Regions from separate parts of the Homo sapiens genome. Here region 2 is linked to region 1. The links come from fine-mapping of genetic effects on gene expression. A gene starts in region 1. The other region holds a variant in brackets. All regions are shown on one strand. Distances are from middle to middle.

Region 1 (2,904 bases):
TCAGCCATGTTTTGTGTGGCCAGAGAGAAGCCCAGCTCAGAGAGAAGCTGGGCGGGCTTCTCTGTGGCCACACGGATTGATTCATTTGGAGTGGGAGAGATAACATGAAATAATAGGTAATTACATCCTTTTGAGTTTTTTGTTTTGTTTTGTTTTGTTTTATTTTAAATAAGAGACAGGGTCTCACTTTGTGGCCCAGGCTGGAGTGCAGTGGTTCGATCTTAGCTCAGGGCAACTTACGTTCTTGATGCTTTTTGCTTTTCCCCCTCACAACCGAAAGAGAAAGTTTTTGCCAGCAGGTGGCAGCGCTGGTGCCTGAAAACGCCAAAAAGCATCGTCCTGGGTTGGCCCGGAGACTAACGATTGCCGCCGGGCTGACACGGGGCAGTCATCTGAAGACAGGAGACAGTCAATTCCAGAAAGCAAATCCCCACTCAAACTTAGAAAAAAGCGATTTTACAAAAACATCTGAACTCTAAATGTTGGTGGAGTTAAATCTCGAAAGACTTGGCTCTTCAAAGCCAGGGGTTCTTTACGGGAAAGTTGGAAATGGGCTTCAGAAAACCTCTCCCCGCATTGTATGCAAATCTGCCCCCCCCCTTTTCTTTTTCCCTGGGAGATCGTCCAGTTATCAGATTCTCAAAATGGACAGCGACTTAAAGCAATTAAAGACCACTGCGACAAATGCTCCTGCGAACACCACTCCGAAGTTAATGGCGCAGACGTCTGGACTTTAAAAGGTGGTGGTAAAGTGCGCTCAGGCATGGGTAGGAGGTGCGGCAGGCGGGGCACAGCTACTTGCTTTCATAATTTTTTTTTCTTCCTGATGGACCAATGCTGTGAAAAATCCTCAGTGGGGTTTTGGAGCCGAAAGGGAGCGACTGCAGTTTGCAGGCTTGCTATGTGTGCCAATCAAGGTGTTTCTCATAAATTTCCTCTTTTAATCCTTGCGGCAATCCTCTGAGTTCGGTGTTAACATCCTTAATATTATTCCTAAAAATCCATTAAGAGGGCTCTTAATGGAGTGCCAGCTTTTGTGGTCCTGGATTTTCAGTGGATGCACACACTGACCATTCCCCTCTCTCTTTTACATTCAAAACTTCCGTGAGATTTCCTTTGTTTAAATGAACTTTCCTTTATAGATAGCCTTTCATTTGTTTATTTTGTCTGCCTCTTTCAATCAAGAGGCACCCTCCCCTCACAATCGGCAGCATAAGCACAGACGTAAACGCAGGAACCAATGCGATTTTAGGTTGAATTTAGGACAGCGCTGGAACTTCACTTTACCCCTCTTGCGGTCACACGAGGTGGGCGGCGGCCCCGGCAGGGTTTGGGCGGGAGAAACGCGGTTCGGGACTCCGCTGCCGCCTAGGCGCGGGGCTGACCTGCGGGGGTGGGGTGGGGGGAGGGAGGTCGAGGCCCGGCCCCACGTGGCCGCTGCTGCCGGGCTCACCCCAGCCCCGCCCGGAGGCGCCCCGCGGCCCCGGCTAGCCAGGGCGGGCGGCCACCTCTGCCCTACTCCTTCCCTCCGCGTTCCGGGCCTCGGAGCCGCCTTGAGGAGGATGAGTCCCTGGAGCTGGTTCCTGCTGCAGACCCTCTGCCTCCTGCCCACGGGCGCAGCTTCGCGGCGCGGGGCGCCCGGCACCGCCAACTGCGAGCTCAAGCCCCAAGTAAGGCGCGCGTCGGGTGCTGGAGAGCCGGCCTCTCTGCACCTCCTTGGGATGGTTTCCCTCCGAACCCCGCGAAGCAGCGCTTTCGGACCCCGAGCCGACTTCCGCGGCTGGGCTTTCACCTAGCACCGCGGCGCTCCTTGCTCGCTCTCCTCTCCGTGCCCTCGGGTTCCCCTTTCCCGCGGGGGCGCAGCCCGCAGGCTCCAAGCGACTCAGTGCCCTGGCCTTTGCCCTCCGCCAGCCCAAGGGCGTCCGAGAGAGCCTCTGGGGTCTCGCCAGCCATTTTCGCGAGCTTTCGGGGGACGGATCCGCCAGGGAGTACCGGACCAGGAACTTGGGCACATTTATTTGAAGTTTCTTCTTCCCTCTCTTCCTTAAGAGTTTAATTTCACCTGCTCTTATCAAAATATTAACAGCGCCCTGAAGCTGCTTGGCTTAACCTTCATATGTTCAGTGCCTGAGTTAGAAGGGACTTTAGGGAGTTGAAGCCATTTCCCTTGTTTTTACCGATCTGGGAAACTGACACTCAGCGGGGGACCTGTGTGCTCCAGGTCACAGAGTGCGTTCGCGGAGTGACCACTGTCCGAGCCTTGCGTGTCCAGCCGGGCGCTTTAGATGTTCGCATCAACGTTTTGTGGGTGAGGGAAACCCAGGCAAGGGAGGCTCAGTGACCTGCCCGAGTCAACACAGCTCTATAGCGGACAGGTCTTGCGTCTCCGAGGCTGGACCTCTTTCGAGATGAATATTTCCTTCTCTGATCAGTTTTCCTACACTCAGAATTTTCTGTGGTTCTCGAGTCCCTCTCTTCTGAGTGCGGCATAGGTTGAATTTCGCGCATTTGTTCCGGTGGGTTTGATATCTGTGCGTCCCTGGCTCTGGAGAGGGCCATGCCAGGCTTATCCTTCTGGTGCGCCCGCGACGCGGGGGTGGGGGGGGTTGGGGGTGGGTTGAGGGAGTGGGGGCTGGAATTTAGAGGCCCACCTTTGATGACACCTGCGCAGCTCCCCGGTCTGCCTCCACCCCTGGCCATTCGCAATTTTATTCCTCATCCCAACTGCAGCAAAGCAGAGGACGGCCAAATAGAGCCGATCCTGGAGCTCCGGGCTGGGAAGACGCACGGTGTTCGCCTCTGTAAGGCGTCGCGGGGCTGCGGACGGCCCTCTACCAAGGCAGGAGGCGCGGCAGCTGGAGAGGGGAGTCTGCACCAGGCATGGTTTCAAACTCTGTTGCGGTG
Region 2 (2,904 bases), 26 kb after region 1:
GCTGTGTGCCCTCCTGGTGTTCAGGAACCGTCATCATTGACAACATAGCACTTCTTCAGATTAAAATGTCACTGAAGATCAGTTTATCTCGTCCTTATGCTTGAGTCCTTTTGTTGAGAACTCAGGTTCAAGTTTTGAGAAGCGCTTCCCTGCTGCCTCTGCCAAAAAGCAGACCTAGACATCCAAAGAAGTGTGTGGAAGCTTTAGCTCCCGAGTCTGGCAGCATCCATTCACATGACAAGAAGGAGCAGGACTTTCATCACCTCCTTGGTTTGAGGGGCCAGTCTAGACTCTTCCAAGGGAATAGTCCCTTTTCAGGTAAGGGAGGAGGTATTTGGAAGAGTGGCTGCGAAGGTAGAAAATGAGCCTGAGAAGGACCTCCCCACTGCACGGAGACCTAGGTGAGGTGGGGAGGCAAGGACCAGACACCCTCAAGATGTCTTAAAAAATTATCTGGGTGAATGGTCTGAGGGCAAGGGAGACCCTTCCCCTACTCTTCTTAACTATACTTCAAGGGACTGAATGGCTCTCAAAAGTGAACTAAGATAAAAAGAAGACACAACAACTCCACACTCCAGAAGGTGAGGCCTGCGCTTGAACAGATGCGAGGCCCTTTGTTTGAGTGCGGGGAGGCTAGTGGGGTGGTGCGGGCCACTGTGAGCCGCGTAATGGGCGGTGCCTTTCATATGCAGAGCAGGTCTTTGATCTGAGGGGAATGAAAGTGCTGGAAAGAGGAGAGACTCGCTGGGGGGCCTTTGTTTTTGACAAAAAAGACATCTGCCGGACTCGAACCCCCTCACCCACCCCCTCAACCCCTGGGCTAACGCAACAATGCCCCAACTGGGACTTGGGTCTCCCCACAGCTGAACAAGTCTCAGGAAAGAGAAAAAGGTCTGCTGCAAATGTGGACAGGAGCTTAATCGATTCTTTCCACAGCCCAGAAAGAAAGGGAGAGAGAAGAAGGGCTGTGGGGAGGCAAGGGGAGAGTGGAAAGGGGGACGTGGGGGCTAGGGGGCAAGGAAGGGTAGAATTTGAACCCTGAAGTAAACTGTCTGGTGATAAGCCTGTAAAGTATTCTCCAGTGAGCACAACGTTCAGAAGGCAGTGCAGGTGGAGTGAATATGTGTCATTGGAGGGAGGGAGAAGGGGATTCAGCTGATGATAAGCCATGATTATGGTTAGACTGATAACCATTTTTTTTTAAAAAAAGGGAGTATAATGTTCGGCAAGCACTAATGTGAAAGTAGCAATCTGTGTATCTTACTTACTGTGTTTTCCAAGGGGAAAATTAAGTCCCTTTAGTTTTTGCACCGTAGGAAATGCCATATCAGGGGTGTTTTATCTTAGTTGTAATATTTCCAATAGTTCTTTTCTTGTGGTCTCCTGTATCTTGCCCTTCTTGAAATCTACACGAATGCAAATTAAAAGAGATTTGAAATGAGGCAATTGGTATTTGGCCTATAAAGATGAGCATTTTCTGCTTGTGGACGATTTTAAAGTCCATTCTGTGGGGTAGATGTACTCTTTGAATGTAAAGCTGATGATTCAGCCAGTGCCATATCATC[G/A]AGTCAGGTGTCCACTCAGGTGTAACTGGCATGGCTTGGGGAGGGAGGGGGCACGTGGAATCATGTCCTACATAGGGCTGTCCCTTCAGAGGCTGTGGTTTGGGTAGGGGTTGGTAGAGGAAGGGCACAGTGATTTGACACCTTTGGTACACCCAGTAGGAGAGAAAGGTCTGTAATCCAAGGATGGTTTTGTGGAGCTTTTCCCCAGAGGTGGACCTGACACCATGATCTCTGGGGGGGCAAGGGGCATTAGTTAACAGGACAGGAAGGGTGAATTTGAGGCTGTCTGTGCATCTTACCTGGTGGTGCTGTCATAACCAGGACAGGGCATTCAGGAGAAGTAGGTGTATTGCCTCTCCTTGCCTTAGAGTTGCATGGGTCTGGGCAGTCAGGCAGGTCTTGCCTGAGGAGAGGTTGGCTTTAGAGGCCTGGGAGGCACCAAGGCCAGTCTTCCTGCCTATTGCCCTGTTATTCTGTGCAGTTTCTCAGTGGAGAGTATCAACTTTGGAGACCGTGGATCTGGGTTTGAATCCTGGCTCCCCCATTTCCTAGTATTGTGACCTTGGGTGAGATATTGAACCTTTCTGAGTCTGTTTTCTTATTTCTAAAAGGGGTATGATGAAACAAACATTGTCAGTTTGTAGTAAAGAATAAATAGAGAACCTTTGTAAAGTGCCCAGTGCATAATGTTTTGGTAAGTTTGCTGTTGCTTTTGCTCCATCCACTGTAAGTGGTTGGGCTTACTCGTATCTAGCCTGTACAGTTGTCCCTCAGTATCCATGGGGGATTGGTTCCAAGACCCACTTGGATACCAAAATTCAAAGATGCTCAAGTTCCTGCTATAAAATGGCAAGTTGCATTTGGATATAACCTACGCACACCCTCCCAAATACTTTGTCATCTCTGCGTTACTTACAATACATAATACAATGTAAATGCAATGTAAATAGTTGTTATACTGTATTTTTGTTTTTAAAAATTGTATTATTTTTATTTTTTCAAATATAAATAATATATATTTATATATAATATATGAAATATAAATAAATAAATATTTTTTGAGATGGAGTCTCGCTCTGTGCCCAGGCAGGAGTGCAGTGGGGCGATCTCTGCTCACTGCAACCTCTGCCTCCCAGGTTCAAGTGATTCTTCTGCCTCAGCCTCCCAAGAAGCTGGGACCACAGGTGTGCGCCACCATGCCTAGCTAATTTTTGTATTTTTAGTACAGATGGAGTTTCACCATATTGGCCAGGCTGGTCTCGAAATCCTGACCTTGTGTGCCTTGGCCTCCCAAAGTGCTGGGATTATAGGCGTAAGCCACTGCACCCATCAAGGCTGG

What was found. PIP is the estimated chance that this variant, and not a neighbour inherited with it, causes the effect.
Region 2: its variant is the best candidate, but not a certain one, in a credible set for the expression of TRABD2A in whole blood (TOPMed, PIP 0.52).

Annotation. Positions count from the first base shown.
Region 1 is chr2:84,879,698-84,882,601 of GRCh38, reverse strand. It overlaps TRABD2A (TraB domain containing 2A), which reads left to right and starts at 1,518. Exons shown (of 7, transcript NM_001277053.2): 1 at 1,518-1,670. The coding sequence starts at 1,563. RefSeq lists a silencer at 1,414-1,543 and enhancers at 1,273-1,773, 1,774-2,276.
Region 2 is chr2:84,853,740-84,856,643 of GRCh38, reverse strand. The region is part of intron 2 of TRABD2A (TraB domain containing 2A); the gene reads left to right. Among named protein-coding and RNA genes, the nearest start is that of TRABD2A, 26 kb to the left of the region's middle. The variant G/A (reference allele first, on the strand shown) is at 1,566.